3 linked regions of the Homo sapiens genome follow. The protein of the gene in region 3 purifies or fractionates together with the protein of the main gene of each other region. This does not show direct contact. Each region holds a gene or a part of one and is shown on either strand. Other genes may lie near its edges. The genes, in order: CTSS, IRF2BPL and IRF2.

Region 1 (7,106 bases), on a different chromosome or scaffold from region 3:
CAAAGCGCTGGAATTATAGGCATGAGCCACTGCACCCAGCTAGATATTGCATTTTTTACAAATTGAAGGTTTGTGGCAACTCTACATTCAGCAAGTCTATTGGTACCATTTTCCCAAAAGCATGTGCTCACATTGTGTCCTTGTACCACATTTTGGTAATTCTCACAATATTTCAAACTTTCTCATCATTATTATATCTGTTATGGTCATCTGTGATCAATGATCTTTGATGTTACTTCATAATTTTGAGGGTGAGCTACAAACCACACCTATATAAGATAGCAGACTTAACCCACAAATGTTGTGTGTGTTCTGACTGATCCACGGACTGGCCACACCCCCATCTCTCTCCTCAGGCCTCCCTGTTCCCTGAGACACAATGATATTGAAATTATGCCACATGATAACCCTATGATAGCTTCTAAGTGTTCAAGTAAAAAGAAAAGTTGCATATCTCTCACTTTAAGTCAAAAGCTAGATGTGATTAAGCTTAGCGGGAAAGGCATGTTGAAAGCCAAGACAGGCCAGAACCTAGCCTAGGCCACTTGTACCGAACAGTCAGGCATGCTGTGAATGTAAAGGAAAAGTGCTTGAAGGAAATTAAAAATGCTGCTCTGCTGAACACACAAATGACAAGAAAGTGAAACAGCCTTATTGCTGATACAGAGAAAATGTGAGTGGTCTAGATACAAGAGTAAGCCAGCCCAGCATGCCTTTACGCCAAAACCTAATCCAGAACAAGACCCTAACTCTCTTCTATTGTAAGAAGGCTGAGAGAGGCGAGGAAGCTACAGAAGAAAAGTTTGAAGCCAGCAGATGTTGGTTCATGAGGTTTAAAATTGCCTCGCCTCACCCCGCCCCGCCTCACCCCGCCCCGCCCCGCCCCGCCCCACCTTGCCCTGCCCTGCCCTGCCCTGCCCCTCTTTCTTCCTTCTTTCTCTTTCTTTCTTCCTTGTTTTTTAGAGACAGGTTTTCACTCTGTTGCCCAGGTTGGAGTGCAGTGGTATGATCATAGCTCACTGTAACCTCAAATTCCTGGGTTCAAGGAGTCCTCCTGCCTCACCCTCCCAAGTAGCTGAGACTACAAGTGAGTGTCACCATATCCGGCTAATTTTTATTTTTATTTTTCGTAGAGATAAGGGTCTCGCGATGTTGCTCAGGCTGGTGTCAAACTCCCAGGCTCAAGCAATCCTCCCACCTCAGCCTCCAAAGCTAGAATTACAGGCATGAACCACCGTGCTCAGCCAATATCCTTTCTTTCTTTCTTTAAATTCTAATTATTGTTTATTTTATTTTTTACCACTTCTGTAGAGGAAGAAAGAAGGATGACGCGCATCTACACCAACAGACACTGGGCCTTTATTGGCCACAGCTTCTTTCAGGACATCTTCTCTGCCATAAGGAAGTTCAGTGTACTTTGAACATGTGGCAGCACGATATTTTGAGTCATATTGACATTTCTGATCCTGCAAAAAGAAGTATAAATATGATGAAGTATACTTCAACTCCTGTATAAATCACCTGTATCCTAAGCCTGGATTTTAAATGTCTCCCTTCCTTTCTTTAACTTTTTCATGTGTCTAAGGCTCCTTCCTTTGCAAATCTTCCAAATCCTAACAGTCCCGGGTTTCAGCAATAATGGAGGAAATACAGAACTATTCTATTCTTTCAAATTGTGAACATCCTCATACATGCAAAACTTGCCAGGACAATGGCCCCTCAGACTTTCAGGTGGACTGTAGGGAAATATTACATAGAGATAATAAACTCTAGATGAGAGCTTTAAAATCTTTTTGATGCCTGCAAGATGATCTGCAGCTAAAATGATGGTATATAAAGACCATATAATATGGGAAACACAAGTATTTCAAGTGGGAAAAGGAAAGTTACAAATTCATGTTTGTTGTATATACAACTATTTTGTATTTATTTATATTATTTATTTTTTTGAGATAGGCTCTCACTCCATTGTCCAGGCTGGAGTGCAGTAGCATAATCATGGCTCACTGCAGCCTCCAACTCCTGGGCCAAGTGATTCTCCCACCTCAGCTTCCTGAGTAGCTGGAACTGCTACTCAGGTGTGCACCACCATGCCTGGCTAATTTTTTTGATTTTTAGTAGAGGTGAGGTCTCACTATGTTGCACAGGCTGGTCTCAAACTCTTGAGCTCAAGCAATCCTCCCACCTCGACCTCCCAAAGTGCTGACATTACAGGTGTGAGCCACCACACTTGGCCAACTATGTTTTTTAAGTGCTTAACAAGAAAATAACTTGAAAGAAATAAACCAAAACAATAGTGGTTAAGGTAGAAGGTTTTTGAGTGATATTTTTATATTTTTAAAATCTTCTGTAACATGGACACAATCCTTAGGTTATCGTTATATCAAAATGTATAATGAATTTCTGAGGAAGAGGAGAGTGTTATTTAGCTTCTCAGTGGGTGGAAGAATGATGTGGTTAATGATCTGAGAATAAGGTTGAGCATGGGAGGCTGCAGAAGAAAAAGTTTAAATACAGAGAAATAATTTTAAGGATAGTTTGCTTAAAATCTGTTTAATTTTGGGATGGAGTCTTGCTCCGTTGCCGAGGCTGGAGTACAGTGGCGTGATCTCGGCTCACTGCACCTCCACCTCCTGAGTTCAAGCGATTCTCCTGCTTCAGCCTCCCGAGTAGCTGGGACCACAGGCATGCACCACCATGCCTGGCTAATTTTTGTATTTTTGGTAGAGACAGGGTTTCACCACGTTGGCCAGGCTGGTCTCAAACTCCTGACCTCAGGTGATCCACCCACCTCGGCCTTCCAAAGTGCTGAGATTATAGGTATGAGCCACTACGCCCAGTCATTAAAATCTGTTTTTAAGCATGAATGCTACTTCCTTATTTGTACTACTGATATATTAAGAAGAGTACTTCATCAGAAACAGAACTCTTGAGAATTTAAGAATTCCTCTTCAGGGTTCTCTCTCACACACAATACTGCTTCTCAAGCAATTGGCATGGTGGCAAGCCCAGCACAGTCAGTCAGTGGATAACATGAGATCATGGGGCAGCACAAAAAGTTTGCTTAAGACGCACCATGGCTTTGTAGGGATAGGAAGCGTCTGAGTCGATGCCCTTGTTATCAATGATGTACTGGAAAGCCGTTGTCATGAAGCCACCATTGCAGCCTTTGTTTCCATATTTTTCAGTTGAGCAATCCACCAGGTTCTGGGCACTGAGAGACACCAGCTTTCCTGTTTTCAGCTTCAGCTGTGCTTCCAGGGCCCCCACAGCACTGAAAGCCCAGCAAGCACCACAAGAACCCTAAAACAGATACAAGGTCACAAACGCAAATCACAGAAAATCATTCGGAATGACTTCCATAACCCAAACTGGACAACGCTCAGCTACATCAGTTCTGTCCCTAGTTCCCAGAAAGAGCTCCCCCACTACAGTTTCCTTCTGTCTTTAACAATGGGAATGAAGACTAAATTTAACTCAATTGTTATCTAGGCAAGGTCCAACCTTGATAGAGATTTGCAATCAGCCAAGCTCAGAACATAATGGCCATATTCAAATATACTTAGAAACAATACTCACTGAGCATGTACCAAATTGCACCTATTTTCACCCATAAGTAAGGGAGATAGTTGCCTACAGTAATGAGATTTTGAGAGAGCTAGGATGATTTCCTTGACCTAAAATACCCTTTCTCCTGTCATATGATGCCTGAAACATAAGAAGTTTAATCCTAGGTTGGCATTTTTCAAACCTTTGTTATCTTCAGAATTTTTTTGATTAAAAAATATTTTACAAGGAGGCATAAACAAACAAAAAAAGGCAAAGCTGCTTTAGTTTTAAAAGGGGCAGAGTGTCCAGAGCCCCATCATAATTGTTCTCTTTCTCTCTCCTTCCCTCCTCCCACCTTGCTCTCCACCAAAAGGAAGCAAACTGACATTGCTTTTGATTGAAGCAAAATTGTTCATTAAAATGCAAGCACCCAGAGAAAGGAGCTCATTAACTTACTCAGAGTTAACATCTAAATATGTGGTTTATTGGGTCTTCTAAAAGCTGTTATTTTAGAGAACCTCGGGTAAGAAATCCAAAACTAATTGAAAGAAAAATATGTAGGTGGAAAAGAATAAGAGATTAGCAGTACCATTTACTTCTTTTTGTTTGTTTGTTTTGAGACAGGGTTTCCTTCTGTCACTCAGACTGAAGTGCAGTGGTGTGATCATGGCTCACTGTAGCCTCAACCTCCCAGGCTCAAGCGATCCTCCCATCTCAGCCCCTCAAGTAGCTGGGACTACAGGAGCGCACCATGCCTGGCTAATTTTTATTTTTATTTTTTGTAGAGTCAGGGCCTCACTATATTGCCTAGGTTGGTTTCTAACTCCTGGGCTCAAGCGATCCTTCTGCCTCTGCCTCCCAAAGTGCTGGAATCACAGATGTGAGCCACTGTGCCTGGCCACCATTTACTTCCTAATAAATTTTTACTTTCTTCATTGATCACAACCTGGGGTAGCTGCTCAGAATGCTTTGATTCCTCTCACTTACCCTGACCTCTATGGTGATACATGTGTTTTACCTCTAACTAATTTAGGATTTTTGCAATTTTTTTAAAACAAGCAAACTAAAGGAAAATACAACAGCATAGGAACAATAATTTTACAAGGCACATATTTCATATTCTAACGATGCAAGACTAGCCATGAATTAACTTGAGTGGCTCAATTTATAGAACACTCTATCTCTAGTTCTTTCTTCTCCTTCAACTTTGAAACTCACAAGTGAAATGGAGAAACTTCCTGATCACCAGGGCTCTCTCACACAACACTGCTTCTCAAGCAATTGGCTTATTGGAGAGTCCAGTGCAGTCAATGCATAGCGTGAGCAATAAAAGTCTGTGTTAAACACCTATTTGCTTAGTTCAGTGTTTGTCTAAGTAGGTGGCTCTATGATCACTTAGAAAAGCACTGTGGGGGCTGAACACGAGGGCTCATGCCTATAATCCCAGGACTTTGGGAGGTGGAGGTAGGAGGATCACTTGAGCTCAGGAGCTTGAGATCAGCTTGGGCAACATGGCAAAACCCATCTCTGCTAAAAATACAAAGAAAAAAAAAGTGGTGGTGTGTGCCTGTAGTCACCGTGTAGGCTGAGATGGGAGGATCACTTGAGCCCAAGAGGCAGAGGTTGCAGTGAGCCCAGATCGCACCACTGCAGTCCAGCCTGGGCAACAGAGGGAGACCCTGTCTCAAACAAAACAAAACAAAACAAAACAAAAACCACTGTGGAGAATCCAGTTGTCCCTCAGTATCCACAAGGGATTGGTTCCAGGACCTCTGAGCATACCAAAGTCAAGAATTTTCAAGTTCCTTATATAAATTACTGAGTATTCGCATATAACCTACACATCCTCCTATACACTTTTTTTTTTTTTTTTTTTTAAGACAGGGTCTCACTCTATCGCCCAGGCTGGAGTGCAGTGGCAAGATCTCAGCTCACTGCAACCTCTGCCTCCCAGGTTCAAGTGATTCTCCTGCCTCACCCTCCCGAGTAGCTGGGATTACAGGCGCCCACCACCACGCCAGGCTAATTTTTGTATTTTCAGTAGAGACGGGACTTCACCATGTTGGCCAAGCTGGTCTCGAACTCCTGACCTCAAGTGATCTGCCTCCCTTGACCTGGAAAAGTGCTGGGATTACAGGCATGAGCCACTACGCCCGGCCCTCCCTTATACTTTACCTTTTTTTTTTTTTTTGAGATGGAGTCTCGCTCTTTAGCTCAGGCTGGAGTGCCATGGTGTGATCTCAGCTCACTGCAACCTCTGCCTCCCAGGTTCAAGTGATTCTCCTGCCTCACTCTCCTGAGTAACTGGGATTATAGGCATGTGCCACCAGGCCCAGTTAATTTTTGTATTTTTAGTAGAGACGGGGTTTCATCATGTTGGCCAGGCTGATCTGGAACTCCTGGCCTCAGGTGATGCGCCTGCCTCAGCCTCCCAAAGTAATGGTATTATAGGCGTGAGTGCCTGGCCTATTTTTTATTTTCATTTTTTTCTGGATATTTTTGATCCACGGTTGGTGGAATCTGCAGATGTGGAAGCTGTGGATATGGAGGGCCAACTGTATAAATAAAATATAATATGTGATCCTTGCCCTTAAGGAACTTATAATTTAGTTGGGAAGACAAGAATAACAAAAATAACTAGAAAGTAACACGTGGGACTGTAAGATTCACTGTCAAATTCTGTAGCTAGACTAAGCATTTAAAGAGCTCTACCTAGGGTTCAGAGGCTTGGGATGGTAATACTCACTTGATATTTCACTTCAGTAACACACCCTTTCTCTCTCCAGTCCACAGAATCAGGCAATATCCGATTAGGGTTTGACTTATATGTGATATTTCTCTGCCACTGGCTGGGAACTCTCAGGGAACTCATCAAAGACATCACTTCTTCACTGGTCTACAAAGCAAATATACAGTCAGGCATTGTTTAATGACTGGAATATGTTCTGAGAAATGCATCGTTAGGTGATTTTGTCATTGTGAAAACACCATAGTGTGTACTTACACAAACCTAGAGCGTATTGGCTCCTACATACCTAGGCTGTATGGTAGGGCCCATTGCTCCTAAACTACAAACCTGCACGGCATGGTACTGTACTGAAGGTTGTAGGCAATTGTAGAACAATATGAAGTACTTGTGTATCTAAATATATCTAAACATAGAAAAGGTAGAGTGAAAATACAGTATAAAAAGTAAAAATGGGAGCTGGGCATGGTGGCTCACGCCTGCAATCCCAGCACTTTGGGAGGCCGAGCCGGGCAAATCACCTGAGGTCAGGAGTTCAAGACCAGCCTGGCCAACATGGTGAAACCCCATCTCTACTAAAAATACAAAAATTAGCTGGGCATGGTGGTGCATGCCTGTAATCCCAGCTATTTGGGAGGCTGAGGCAGGAGAATCACTTGAGCCTGGGAGGCGGAGGTTGCAGTGAGCTGAGATCGCGCCAGTGCACTCCAGCCTGGGCGACAGAGTGAGACTCCATCTCAAAGAAAAAAAAAAAAAGTAAAAATGGTACTTCTATATAGGTCATTTACTATGAAAGGCCTGGAGTTGCTCT
Region 2 (7,559 bases), on a different chromosome or scaffold from region 3:
CCCCTTTGCTCGTCTCTACAGGCCCAGGGCTCAAACTGCGCCTCTGGGGTTCCTGGCGCGCGGCGATCAGGGGCCATCGAAAGGCCAGAGGAGGGCCCAACGCAGACGTTTGTTTTCATCTTCTCCAAGGCGGATCTCGCAGGCCAGAGAAGTGGGTCCCGCTTACCGCGGGGCTGTTACCAAAAAAGGCCTTTCTCTCGCTGGAGCGCTTGGCGGCGCGCGTTGCAGCAGGGTGACGCGAGGTTCAGCCCGGGCCTCCTTGAAGGTTGAGCCAGCTGACTGCAGGGCTGCCAGGCCAAGAGCCCCCCCTCCGCAACACACACACACACCCGCGCCCCGTCTCTGCCACAAAACGGCGGGGGCAGGAGAGAGAGTGCAGGGAGCTTCGAAGTGCGCGCCTGGCGACCTTCTCACCACTAGTAACCTTGGGCTATGGTGCTCCGGCAAGGCCAGGTGGAAAGCTGACCTTTTGCTCCAGTTTAGAGCAGGGTTCTCTGAGGATGCCAGCCCAGATGGCAAGCTGGGTGGGGAAAGCGACAGTAGGAAGGAACTTTGGGAAGATGATGCCGCCGTTTGGCGCCCGGCTCTGCTAGTCTCTGCTTGTCTCCCAGACCCCATGGACAGAGTTCTTTGAGTCTCTACACCTGGCAGTTTACGTTGAGGCTCCTCCACCTCCACCACCCCCCTCCCAAATCCTTTCCAGTTCCTTTCCACCGTTGTCATAGTTTTGTTCCACGGGACTCTTCTTCAGGGAGAAAACCCACCTCCAGAACACTGGAGTTCTAGCCTCTCACCGTCTCTCACACATCCCCAAACGGCCATCTCAGGCAACAAGAGATACCACAAATGATGTTGATTCTTTTTTTTGGTTGGGGGGGGGGGGGCGGTTTGGAGACAGCTGTGTTTTATAAATGAAAGGATTATGAGTCTGTAATGGAAGTCTGTTTAAATACACGTTGATTTCTAACTCAGTGTGTCTGAAGGCACCCCAGCATGTATGTGTGTATATATATCTCCTTTAGTAACAGTGAAGACAGAGACAGACAGGGAGATGGAGACATATGTGTGTGCATACCAAACATAACACCATGACATAGAATCCAACTTGCTTTCTCTAGCAGCCTGGCTGGAGGGTTGTGGCTAAGTTGCTATTTCCCTAATATTTTTGGTTTAATAAAGGGAAGGGCTGAATAAATATTAATGTAAAGAAATGGGTCACCCAACCGAGCCAAAGCTAAGGAGCCCCAGGCTGGCGGGGATGTCAAACCATTTCCCACCCCTATGTTTTGACTCACTCCAGGGTAGCGGTAGTGTGGGGAGGGCTGAAGTCTGGGAGAGTGAGGCAATGCTCCCCAAGCAACTCTTTGCAGAGGAATCACTGCAAAGTGCCAGCAGGCCAGAGAAAGTTTATTATTGCTCTAGAGTGCACAGTGAGCTCACTGTTTTGCAAAAACAGAAATCTGGCTGCTTTGAGATGAAAGAGGGGCTCCCTAGGGCTCCTCCTCCTCTTCTGTCCTTAAAAACTCGCCTTTCCTTTGCACTCAGGGGCCCCAGAATGAGTGGGAGATTGGGGCTCTGGGGAGGGTTGGATAGGGGAACAGGCTCTGGAAGTCAAGTGTCAAAATAAAAGTAAGTATCTCTTGTTGCTTCCACTGAACTTTATTGCAATTACTAGTAATAAGAGTGATAATAGTGATCCTCACAATTTATGCAGTTTACTAAGTACTGTCACATGTCAACCAGCAATAGTACCAACACTAGTATCAATACTAATAATAACTAACACTAACTGTGAGTCCAACACTGCTCTCCATTCTGTATGGTGTATTTAAGTTACAGTCTGGTAGTGACAGATCTACAACTTCTGTATATAGAACTCAGTGGTACAAATGCGCTTGGAAGGGGAGGCTGGGGGTTGGTTATGAAGGTGTATTGGCATAGTACTTACGTAAGATTGTATGTAACACCAAATCAACTGGGGCTGATGGGAATTTTGAGCACCCCAAACCACCTCTGCAAGCCTGAGCTTGTCAAAGACACCTCAAATCAGATTTACTGGATTCAAATCCCAGCCCCATCACTAATGGCTGTAGGCAAGTTATATAGCCTCTTTACTTTCCTGGTTTGTAAAATGGAGGTAAAAGAATCTACCCTGTAGATAATATTAAGGGTTTAATACTGTAATAGGCCGGTCACGGTGGGTCATGCCTGTAATCCCAGCACTTTGGGAGGCTGAGGCGGGAGGATCACCTGAGGTCAGGAGTTCGAGACCAGCCTGGCCAACATGGTGAAAGTCCGTCTCTACTAAAAATACAAAAATGAGCTGGGTGTGGTGGCGGGCGCCTGTATCCCCAGGTACTTGGGAGACTGAGGCAGGAGAATTGCTTGAACCTGGGAGGTGGAGGTTGCAGTGAGCTGAGATTGCGTCACTGTACTCCAGCCTGGGTGACAGAGTGGACTCTGTCTCAAAACAACAACAAAATACTATAGATAATATCCCCTTAATAATGTAGATAATATTAAGGGTGATGCAAGTAAAGCCACCTAGTTTACTAAGGTCCCACGGCAAGTCTAAGTAAGCGTTATCTCTTCTTATGACAAGAAACAAATTGAGGCCGGGTGAGGTGGCTCATGCCTGTAATCCCAACACTTTGGGAGGCCAAGGTGGGTGCATCACTTGGGCCCAGGAGTTTGAGACCAGCCTGGGCAACACGGCAAAACCCCATCCCTTTCCAAAAATACAAAAAAATTGGCCAGGTGTAATGGCACATGCCTGTAGTCCCAGCTACTAGGGAGGCTGAGGTGGGAGGATTACTTGAGCCTGGGAGGTCAGGCTGCTGCCAGCCGCGAGTGTGCCACTGCACTCCAGCCTGGGCAACAGAACAAGATCCTATCTCAAAAAAACAAAAAACCGAAGTTGAAATCTCAAACAACCCTAACAACCTGGGAGCTATCATTCCATTCTCTTTTCCATGGAAAAGAGAGATTTTGTGGGTAACTAGCTTAAGGGTGGAGAGCCAGTTAGTGATGGAGAGGAAATTTCAATCTGGTGGGCCACACTTCAGAATCCGAAATCCCATTATATTGCTTTCCCTTCTCCAGCCTTCCCTGGGATTATCTCAGTTTTCATGAAATAAAAAAAAAAAAAAAAGCAAACCCAATAATTAGAATAATCAATAGAAATGCCCCAACTAGAGCTATGACCAACATATCCATCGTGCCATAAGCAATACTGATGAGCAGTGATCTTGTAAGGCAGAAGAAATCACGGCCTTGGCCGGGCGTGGTGGTTCATGCTTGTAATCCCAGCACTTTGGAAGGCCGAGGCGGGAGGATCACCTGAGGTCAGGAGTTCAAGACCAGCTGGCTAACATGGTGAAACCATGTCTCTACAAAAATACAAAAAATTAGCTGGGCCTGATGGCGGGTGCCGGTAATCACAGCTACTTGGGAGGCTGAGGCGGAAGAATCGCTTGAACCTGCGAGGCAGAGGTTGCAGTGAGCCGAGATCGCGCCATTTTGCACTCCAGCCTGGGCGACAGAGCAAGACTCCGTCTTAAAAAAAAAAAAAAAAAAAAATCACGGCCTTGTTCCGCCTTCTGGGGCAACATGGAGTGAGATCACAGCGCCTGAGAAAGAACTTTGAAAACTGCGGCTGTGCTTTACAAAAATGTATCAGTATTATTAAATGCTGCCTCCACCTTTTAAAAATCAAACTCTAGAAAAAACACTCACCTGTTTGGCCTCTCCGGCCCCTCCCCCTCCCTGCCCTGAACTGCAGCTGTGCGCAGCCAGTTGCCTGTTTTCCTTAAAGGCCTCGGGGTGCTCGTATCTTCTTCAGACGTTCAGCCAAAATTTTTAAAGTGCGGCTGGGGGGAAGGGTAGCGCACTCTGAATTCATTTAGCTCTATCGTTGAAGCCCGGGTTCCTAGATCAGGGCACAAAAACAAATAGAAAAGACAATTTCTGGAAGATTGGAAAACAGCTAATTTTGCAGGTGCTTCGGCATCAGTGGTGGCGATGAATTTAACATCCATGCCGGGGGGGATAAGGTTCAACCGCAGATGAAATGGTTAATACCTTATACGAAATTCACGGCGAAAAATCCTGAAACAGGACATTTAAATTCACTGCCGAGGCTTGGGGGTGGGGTGGGGAGCAGGGATCGGAAACGACGCTAGTGGTTCTTAAATGCGTTTTTACTTGGGAATGCCCGGCAGGGAAAGGAAAGGTCATCGTCTGTTTAATTTCCACCCCCAGCTCTGGACTTCCAGCATTAGCTCGCCGGGCCTCAGCTGTTGTACACACACGGCGAGGGGGGAGGGGAGGGCGGAGGCGCGGAGGAGGGGCCGGCTGGGAGGAATCTGGGCGTCCTGCCGCGCATGCGCCTTGCCTGAGCAACAAGTGGGCTCCACAGAGGAAGTGTAAAGGGGAGGGGGAAGAACTGGTGCAGAGCATGGCGGTGACGTCAGCGCTCCGCCCGGGCGGCATCCCGCGCGGCCAAGCCGGGGACAGCGCGAGCCGCAGCCGGAGCAGGAGCGCCGAGACGCGCCTCCGGAACGTAGAGTAACAATCACAACCCCACATTCCGGGCGAGCGTGAGCACGAGCGGGAAGGGATGCGACCCGGGCCGAGGCGCCGCGCGAGCGCCCTGCAGCCAACGTGAGCGCCGCCAGCCGCGGCGGCCCGGGCGCCGGCCAGGCCTGGGGGCGGCGGGAGCCTGCGTGCGTGCACTCCTCTCCTCTGCTCTCGTGCGTCCTGGAAGCAGTGGCCGCGGCGGCTCCCTCCGGGGTGCAAACCCAGTCGCCGCCAGCAGAACGGCCGACGCTGCGGAGGGGAGAAGGTCCTTTCTCGGCTGCCACCCCCTCCCCCGGTCCTCCGGGGAAGCAGCGGCTTCAGCAAGATTGGACCCGGGCACCGGGTGGCACTGAACCCTCTGGCCCTCGCCCCAGGGGGCCCGTCGGGGAGAGGACGCAGCTCGTAGGGGGGTCCCCGGGGAGAGGAAGAGACAGCCCCTTTCGAGCTTCCACGCACCAGCCACTCCGGGGAGGGGGCCAAGAGGCAACGGCGGCCACCACCGGGCACCCTCGCCCCCTCCCCTCGGGCCGGGAGCTTCCAGCCCAAGTCTGCAGCACCAGGAAGAAGGCGCCTGAGCTCCCCTCGCGACGAGTCAACCGCAGTAGGAGGTGGGGGCGAAGAGAGGGCTGAACCCGTCCGCTGCCCGGGCGGTGGAGCCCCCACGGCGAGGCGCTGCGCCGGCGGTGGAGACTCGCGTTCCCTCCAGCCCCTGGGGCAGAACTTTCTCGCCCCCCCTCCTCCCTCCCCCGCAGTCGGACTCCCTCCCCAGCCGGCCAGTCCTCCCGGAGGAGAAGGCGCCGCGGAGACAGCCCGGGCGGGGGCCTACCTTCCCCAGGGCAGGCATCATGTCGGCGGCGCAGGTGTCCTCGTCCCGGAGACAATCTTGCTACCTGTGCGACCTGCCCCGCATGCCCTGGGCCATGATCTGGGACTTCTCGGAACCCGTATGCCGCGGTTGCGTCAACTACGAGGGCGCTGATCGCATCGAATTCGTGATCGAGACAGCGCGCCAGCTGAAGCGGGCGCACGGCTGCTTCCAGGACGGCCGCTCCCCCGGGCCGCCGCCGCCCGTCGGGGTCAAGACAGTGGCCCTGTCGGCTAAGGAAGCGGCGGCGGCGGCGGCAGCAGCGGCGGCCGCCGCCGCCGCCGCGCAACAGCAACAGCAACAGCAGCAGCAGCAGCAGCAACAGCAGCAGCAGCAGCAGCAGCAGCAGCAGCAACAACAGCTCAACCACGTTGATGGTTCCAGCAAGCCTGCGGTGCTGGCGGCCCCGTCTGGCCTGGAGCGCTACGGCCTAAGCGCTGCCGCCGCCGCCGCCGCCGCCGCCGCCGCTGCGGTGGAACAGCGCAGCCGCTTCGAGTACCCGCCACCGCCGGTGAGCCTGGGAAGCAGCAGCCACACCGCGCGACTGCCCAACGGCCTGGGGGGCCCAAACGGCTTCCCCAAACCAACACCAGAGGAGGGACCCCCAGAGCTGAACCGTCAGAGCCCCAATTCTTCTTCAGCGGCGGCGTCGGTGGCGTCTCGGCGTGGAACGCACGGTGGGCTGGTTACGGGGCTGCCCAACCCGGGGGGTGGCGGAGGCCCCCAGCTCACCGTGCCCCCCAACCTGCTACCGCAGACGCTGCTTAACGGCCCGGCCAGCGCTGCGGTACTCCCCCCACCCCCTCCCCACGCCCTGGGCAGCCGTGGGCCCCCGACGCCTGCTCCCCCAGGGGCTCCTGGGGGCCCCGCTTGTCTCGGGGGTACCCCGGGTGTATCGGCCACGTCGTCCTCCGCGTCGTCTTCGACCTCTTCGTCGGTGGCAGAGGTGGGCGTGGGTGCTGGTGGTAAGAGGCCCGGCTCGGTGTCGAGCACAGACCAGGAGCGCGAGTTGAAGGAGAAGCAGCGCAACGCCGAGGCCCTGGCCGAGCTGAGCGAGAGCCTGCGCAACCGCGCCGAGGAGTGGGCCAGCAAGCCCAAGATGGTCCGCGACACGCTGCTCACGCTGGCAGGCTGCACGCCCTACGAGGTTCGCTTCAAGAAGGACCACTCGCTGCTGGGCCGCGTTTTCGCCTTCGACGCCGTCTCCAAGCCCGGCATGGACTACGAATTGAAGCTGTTCATTGAGTACCCCACGGGCTCGGGCAACGTGTACTCCAGTGCATCTGGTGTGGCCAAGCAGATGTATCAGGACTGCATGAAGGACTTCGGCCGGGGCCTATCCTCGGGTTTCAAGTACCTGGAGTACGAAAAGAAGCACGGCTCCGGGGACTGGCGCCTGCTTGGAGACCTGCTCCCCGAAGCCGTGCGCTTCTTCAAGGAGGGCGTGCCCGGCGCCGACATGCTGCCCCAGCCCTACCTGGACGCCAGCTGTCCCATGCTGCCCACTGCTCTGGTGAGTCTGAGCCGCGCCCCCAGCGCACCCCCGGGGACCGGGGCCTTGCCGCCCGCCGCGCCGTCGGGCCGGGGCGCAGCCGCCAGCCTGCGCAAGAGAAAGGCCTCTCCGGAGCCCCCGGACTCAGCCGAGGGCGCGCTGAAGCTGGGCGAGGAACAGCAGAGGCAGCAGTGGATGGCGAACCAGAGCGAGGCGCTGAAGCTCACCATGTCCGCCGGGGGCTTCGCGGCGCCGGGGCACGCGGCGGGGGGTCCGCCTCCGCCGCCCCCACCTCTGGGACCCCATTCCAACCGGACCACCCCACCTGAGTCAGCCCCCCAGAACGGTCCGTCCCCTATGGCCGCTCTCATGTCGGTGGCAGATACTCTGGGCACAGCGCACTCGCCCAAGGATGGCAGTTCCGTGCACTCTACCACTGCGTCGGCGCGGCGAAACAGCAGCAGCCCAGTCTCGCCGGCCTCCGTGCCGGGGCAGCGCCGCTTGGCATCACGTAACGGGGACCTGAATTTACAGGTGGCGCCCCCGCCGCCTAGCGCCCACCCGGGCATGGACCAAGTGCACCCCCAAAACATTCCGGATTCCCCCATGGCCAACAGCGGACCC
Region 3 (7,106 bases):
GAGAGGTTGGTGTAGGTCAGCGTCAGTCTGTGTCTAGTGACCTGCATAATTGATGTCCTCACCCTCACGTAGGATAATCCAAAGGATGAAATAAATGGGCTTGGGAGTCTGCCTGCCATATATAGCCTGCCTGCCTTTTCTTTAATTTTATCCCCACCAGGAAAACCTAAACAGGATCCGGTTTCCCTTCCATTCTGTATGCTGTGGCTTTTGGACTCTTGTATCACAGCCCCAAATCCCCTTTCTGAGCCTCTTTTGTGCCTTTCCTTTCTTTATTAAAGAACCTATGAATTGCCACTGCCCTCTAAAACCTTCCCTGCGTAGAAATCAGATAATGTGCTTGTCACTCCACAGACAGCAATTAAAACAGGAACCTGTTTATAAACAAAAATACTTCAGAAAATAAAATACTTGGAGTGATTAAAACGAGCCTCTCCATGACGCCTGGCGTCTCAAGGAGACTGGAATGCGTTCTAACCTGAATACTTTGCCGATTGGTGAGAAAATGACTGCAACATAGAGCACCACATATACTCCAAGCTGTGCGAGTCTGGACAAGTCACTCTCCCTCTCTGTGCCTGAGTTTCTTCATCTATAACAGGATAACGATGCTTTCTCTGTCATCCTTATGGGTTAAAATGTTAAAATAACAGATACAGGTATGAGTAAAACGTTGATGATGGTGGCAAAGTGCTTTGAGGACCTTGGGAATTATTTCTTCACCTTTATTTATTGAAGCTAATTTTCAGGGACATTTCATCCAACTAACAGTGGTATGAGGTCAGTTTCATTCAAAATGAGGGCAGGACCTTAGGGACCTTCAAATTAAAATGGCCATGAAACATCATGACTTACCTATGAGAATGGCCAAAATAAATAAACAGTGATGACACGAAATGCTGCCGAGGCTGTGGAGAAATTTGATCACTCAGACACTGCTGGTGGGAATGTAAAATGGCACGGTCACTCCGGGAAGCAGTTTGGCAATTTTCTTGTAAAATTAAACATGAAATTACCATATGACTCAGCAATTGCATTCTTGGGCATTTATCCCAGAGAAATGGAAACTTATATTCATACAAAACCTGAACACAAACATCCATAGCAGCATTATTTGTAATAGTCAAAGGCTTGTAGCAACTCAGACATCCTTCAGAGGGGAGAATAAACACACTGGTACACCTATACCGTGGAATACTACTCGGCAATTGAAAAGGAACCGATGACTGATACACACAACAACTTGGGTGACTCTGCGGTGAATTATGCTGAGTAAAAAAAAAGCCAGCCCCAAAAGTCTACTGTATGAGTCCATTAATATAACATCCTTGAAATGAACAAATTAATGAAATGGGGAACAGATTAATAGTTGCCCAGGGGTCATGGACAAAGAGATGGATGGGGAGGTACTGAAGGAAGGTGGCTATGGTTACAAAGAGTAACGTGAGAGAGATTGGTCGTGATGGAACTGTTTGGTGTTTTGACAGTGGTGGTAGGTACATGAACCTTTATGTGTGATAAAATTGCACTTAGTCCTGGTGCAGGTACACACTCACACAAAAGAGTGCAAGTAAAACTGAGGAAATCGGAACAAGATGGGTGGATTGTTATTTATGTCAATACTCTGGTTGCGATATTGTATTCTAGCTTTGTAGCCTATAACCATTGGAAGAAGTTGAGTAAAAGGCACACAGGATCTCTCTGTATTATTTCTTACAACTGTATGTGAGTTTACAATGATCTCAAAATAAACAATATAAGAAAAATATTTGAGGCAGTTTTCAGAGCCAGGGTGGTCAGAATCCATCTTATCAGTGTTCCGGGGAGCTGATGCTACTAATGTTTGCCAGAATTGGAGATCTGACTCTATTCCATTGTGCTGATATTTCAGCCAGTTGGACATGTTGCCTGTAGAGCAGGAAGAGAGCTGGGAGCGTAAGCAGAGCGCCACCCAGCTAGATGGGGACCTTGGGCATTTATCCCAGAGAAATGGAAACTTATGTTCATACAAAACCTGAACACAAACATTCACACAGCTAGATGTGACACAATTGGGTAGATTTTCATGGCCCTTCCTCTTTAGTAAGGTTTGATAATGTCTCCCTGGATTGTAGAACCCAGAAAATAAGCACAGCGCCTTCTTTTGGAGCAAGAGCAGGGAGCAGAAATCGGTCAGGTTCAAAGTACTGTCATGTCTGGCCCTGGGGCTGGGGCTGGATGCCGCCTCTGGTCCTGTGGCCTCGGCTGTGACGGGGTTGACTGTGGAATTCTGCTGAGCTGGAAAGGACATGGCCACCGTGCGTGCCATTGGCAGGCATGCTGGAGATAGACCTGGGGAGCCAAGTGCTGGCCGGCTGCTCCCTGGGAGACATCACACCAGAGCTACAGAGCTCAGGCGTGTTCTTCAGCCCCATGGCAGGGGACAGATGGTGATGGGAGCCTGGCGACCTGGCTCTTTTGGGGAAGACTCTTTCTTGAGAAAGTGTGCTAGAATTGTGAGGTCAGCAGACTTTGCATGATGGCTGTCTTTTCTTTGAAGTTGTAGGACAGTCCCATCTGGACAGCAACATTGAGAATCAAGAGATTGTCACCAATCCGCCAGACATTTGCCAAGTTGTAGAGGTGACCACTGAGAGCGACGAGCAGCCGGTCAGCATGAGCGAGCTCTACCCTCTGCAGATCTCCCCCGTGTCTTCCTATGCAGGTAAGCGTCAGCGGGAGGCTCCGGGAGGCGTGGGAACCGGCCGCGCAGTCCTTTGGTCTAGGGTCACCCATCTCACCACCCCACGGAGCATCCCTCCTCTGTCCTAGGAGTTATTCTCCCTGGAGTTTTTCATACTTTAATTATCTTGATCAACATCTTCTTGGACACTTTTGTTCTCAGGTAGAGGACAGGATCACAGCATTTCTTTACTCAGTTGGCCATGACATTTTTTATTTATTTATTTATTTTTTTTTTTTTTGAGACAGAGTCTCGCTCTGTCTCCCAGGCTGGAGTGCAGTGGGATGATCTCGGCTCACTGTAACCTCCGCCTCCCAGGTTCAAGAGATTCTTCTGCCTCAGCCTCCTGAGTAGCTGGGATTACAGGCGCACACCACCATGCCAGCTAATTTTTGTATTTTTAGTAGAGACGGGGATTCACCATGTTGGCCAGGCTGGTCTCGAGCTCCTGACGTCAGGTGATCCGCCCACCTTGGCCTCCCAAAGTGCTGGAATTACAGGTGTGACCCACAGTGCCTGGCCTCCCATAACATTTTTATATATGGTTACAGATAAGATTTCTTTAGGGCAGTAGTTCATCAGAGTCTAATTTATTAGCCCAAGTTATTAGAAATTTGGCAGAGTGTTTTAATGGATTCTCAGTTTGAGCAGGCTGGATAGGACCTTAGAGATGATCTCTTCCTGTTCCTTCATTTCTGAAAGGGAAGGGGCTTGCGCAGGGTCGTACAGTCAGCAAGTGTTTGGGCCAGGACTTGACCTCAGCCTTCAGACCCCAAGCTCATTGCTAGATCCATTCCATCCACCAAGCGTACTTGTCCTTTCCACATATTTTCTCTTTCTTTTTATATCTAGTACAGGTTCTAATTAGGCCAGATGACTGAGCCATTTCCAATTCTCCAGGGACTTGGCTACATAATGACAGGAGTTGGCCCAGGCAGAGTCACAGGGGGAGGAACAGATCCAGTTGGTTCTTCCATTCTTCCAGAGTAAAAGGATGGCTCCTCTCGTTCGCCAACATTACTTCATCTTCTCCTCTCTTCCTGATGATCTCCATTGAATTTTGTGGAAATCAATTGTAATTAGGAAATATAAATTCTGAGTCAGTGTTACTGCTTGCAGATATTAAAAATAAAAAGCAGAGTCCCCATCCTGGGAAACTGCAGTTCAGCTCTAGCAAATAGTTCAGGGATTCTTCCCTGTGCTCTTTACACGCTGCCAAATGGGATGTCCTCCAGTAGGTGCCACCCCCAACACTGGCTCCGACCAGCGTTGGAATTAGAGTTGACTCAAAGGACTGTTGTTTGTGAATTATCAGCCACTAAGTCTAATCTCATTTTCCCTGAATGCCAACTTTCTTTTTTTTTTCACTTTTAAAAATTGTGGTAAAATACATTAACATAAAATTTACCATTTTAGCCATTTTTAGGTACACAGTTTAGTAGCATTCAGTGCATTAATGTTGTCGCAGCCATCACCAGCATCCACCTCCAGAACGTTTTTCATCTTGCGAAACTGAAACTCTGTCTGCATTAAACACTAAGTCCTCTTTTCCCTCCTCCACCCCAGCCCCTGGCAACCTCCTGCCTATTTTCTATCTCAGTGAATTTGGCTATTCTAGGTACCTCCTATGAGTGGAATCATAGTGCTTGTTGTTTTGTGACTGGCTTATTTCACTTAGCATAGGTCCTAGTGTGCATTTATGCTAGGAGCGTAAGTGGAATGTGAGAATAGACCTTGGCCACAGGAAGATTATAATCTGTCAAACAGGATAAGCTTGTCTTCGGTGCTTTATTCAGCAAATGCGTTTTGGACTCTTACACGTGCCAGTCCCTGTTTGGTCCTTGCCAGAGTGCAGTCACAAGAACTACTATGTTTTGCAAATTTATTGTGCCCTGGGAACCATGCTCAGTGCTTGGGTACAGTTGACTGTTGTTGTTGTTGTTTGTTGTTGTTGTTAATAGAAATAGGGTTCTGCCTTGCTGCCCAGGTTGGTCTAGAACTCCTGGGCTCAAGTGATCTGCTCGCCTCAGCCTCCCAAAGTGCTGGGATTACGGGCATGAGCTGCCATGCCTGGTATGATACAGTTGACTTGTTTAATTATAATTAGAGTAACCCTGTCAGCCTGGGTATCGTCATCATCCCGTTTTTAAAAGTGAGGAATCTGGCTGGGTGTGGTGGCTCACGTCTGTAATCCCTGCACTGGAAGGCTGAAGTGGGAGGATCACTTGAGCCCGGAAATTGGAGACCAGCCTGGGCAACATAGTGAGACCACACTTCTACAAAAAATAAAAAAAGTTAACCGGGTGTGGTGGCATGTGCCCGTAGTCCCAGCCACTTGGAAGGCTGAGGCAGGAGCATCCCCTTGAGCCCAGGAGTTCAAGGCTTCATTGAGCCCTGGTTGCACCATTGCACTCCAGCCTGGGTGACAGAGCGAGATCCTGTCTTAAAAAAAAAAAAAAAGAAAAAAAAATATATATATATGGATCTGCGGCTGGCGTGGGTAGAGCAGCGTGTCTGAGGGAGGAACGATTGGGAGCACAGCTAGAACCCATGAGCCGTTGATGCCAAAGGCCGGTCCTTAACGCCCGCCCTGTGTCGCTGCCCTGGACAGCGCACGGGCTCTGCCGTTCAGAACACAGCCACATCCCGTGATCTCATTTGATTTTCACAAGGACCCACCAAAGGAGGCAGAGCAGAATGTTTATGCCTAAATTTTACAGTAGAGCTAACCGAAGCGTGAAACACTCAGCCACTTTGCTTATATTTACATAGTTATGGCTAAAAACCCATGACTTTCTTCTATAGCCTGCTGCTGCAGGCATCGTTACACTCCATGTGGTTTTCTTTCTCTCTTCTTTTTTTAGGGGGTTGGAGCTTTAGAATAGACTTCTATGTTTATCTGTTGAGTAAGACTTTTCTGAGGTCTTCTTGGGGATTCTGGAAAGACCTCTTCTTGCTGTTCTGCCAGCAGTGGCATTTGCTCAAGCAAAAGATTCCGGAGAACAGCAGATCCATGCAGAGAGAAATGAACATTTCATTACTCTCTTCAGGACATTTGCATAGGTTTGAAAGGAAGGATTTCAGTGCCAGGATGGCAGTCAACAGGAGGTTTTGCTGGAGCCTGGCTTTTCAGCCTGGCCTTTGGTTCTTTCCGTTGTTTTCATTGTCTGGATTCTCCAGAACCTCGTGGAGGGAGGCTTACTGGTTGGAGGCAAAATGTTCCATCGCTGCTGATGTTCTAGAGCTCACAGTGGTGTAAAACATTTCCCTGCTACTGACTGTAGCTAATTTTAGTTCCTCCGTCAGAAATTGTATAACATGCTGTCAGGAAAGGCAGCTTTCTGCGTGTATTCACCTTTCTTGCTTTATGTTCTCCAGTAGAGTCGGCCATTTGCCTGTTTTTCATGATGGAGTTCCTTTGTTTGGGCTGTTCATCTGAATTTCAATCTCCTCTGACCACCTTTTTTTTTTTTTTTTTTTTTTTGAGACGGAGTCTCGCTCTGTCGCCCAGGCTGGAGTGCAGTGGTGCGATCTCGGCTCACTGCAAGCTCCACCTCCCGGGTTCACGCCATTCTCCTGCCTCAGCCTCCCGAGTAGCTGGGACTACAGGCACCCACAACCAAGCCCGGCTAATTTTTTTTGTATTTTTAGTAGAGACGGGGTTTCACCGTGTTAGCCAGGATGGTCTCGATCTCCTGACCTCGTGATCCACCCGCTTCGGCCTCCCAAAGTGCTGGGATTCCAGGCGTGAGCCACCGCGCCCGGCATGCTCTGACCACCTTTATTCATCTGTTTGGGAAACTGGTATTTGGAGGCTGCTGTTTGCTAGTTTTTCCCCCTACTGATCGTTGAATCATAATCCCAGTAGTATATTACAAAACCACATTCAGTTTTGCAAGTCTGTCTTCTCCTCTGTGGTCTAAATATTATGATGAGAAAGAGAAGAGATAGTACTTGCGTTGGATGTTTTAAGACAACATAAAATTCTAGTGTGATTTGTGAAACTTTCATACTAGGGAGGGACATTTCAAAGTGCCACTTTGGGAAGCTCTGGCGGAGAGACATGTCATGTTTAAAGGTGCATTACAAAGTGACCCCTTGCCTGATCTGTGGCATCAGAATTTTATTAGGTGGTTGATGGTTTAGTAGAAGAAAACCACAGTAGAATAATGGGGTGGGGGAGGATGGGTAAGAGGGGCTGGAGAGTAGACTCGAGAAGAAAACATCATCTGAAGGACTCACTGGCTATAATGAGAGAGTGGAGATCGCCTGCTGACCAGCAGCCATCAGTAAAGGCTTTGAATCCTTCGGGAAACCACACCAGGCTTGCATTTTGTTGGGCAGAGCAAAGACACAATCGCTTTGAGATTAAGAGGATTCCGAT

Evidence for each region.
Region 1: the proteins of IRF2 (region 3) and CTSS purify together in Homo sapiens (affinity purification with mass spectrometry; 2 studies listed by BioGRID and IntAct, with this or other methods). This does not show direct contact.
Region 2: the proteins of IRF2 (region 3) and IRF2BPL purify together in Homo sapiens (affinity purification with mass spectrometry; 4 studies listed by BioGRID and IntAct, with this or other methods). This does not show direct contact.

Annotation. Positions count from the first base shown.
Region 1 is NC_000001.11:150,748,706-150,755,811, forward strand, and holds part of CTSS (cathepsin S isoform 1 preproprotein), read right to left. Parts: intron 6,446-7,106; coding exon 6,296-6,445; intron 3,304-6,295; coding exon 3,076-3,303; intron 1,467-3,075; coding exon 1,301-1,466; intron 1-1,300. UniProt on the Homo sapiens protein: Thiol protease. Key protease responsible for the removal of the invariant chain from MHC class II molecules and MHC class II antigen presentation. The bond-specificity of this proteinase is in part similar to the specificities of cathepsin L.
Region 2 is NC_000014.9:77,025,657-77,033,215, reverse strand, and holds the start of IRF2BPL (probable E3 ubiquitin-protein ligase IRF2BPL), read left to right. Parts: upstream 1-4,507; 5' UTR 4,508-5,423; coding exon 5,424-7,559. UniProt on the Homo sapiens protein: Probable E3 ubiquitin protein ligase involved in the proteasome-mediated ubiquitin-dependent degradation of target proteins. Through the degradation of CTNNB1, functions downstream of FOXF2 to negatively regulate the Wnt signaling pathway.
Region 3 is NC_000004.12:184,394,513-184,401,618, reverse strand, and holds part of IRF2 (interferon regulatory factor 2), read left to right. Parts: intron 1-2,539; coding exon 2,540-2,704; intron 2,705-7,106. UniProt on the Homo sapiens protein: Specifically binds to the upstream regulatory region of type I IFN and IFN-inducible MHC class I genes (the interferon consensus sequence (ICS)) and represses those genes. Also acts as an activator for several genes including H4 and IL7.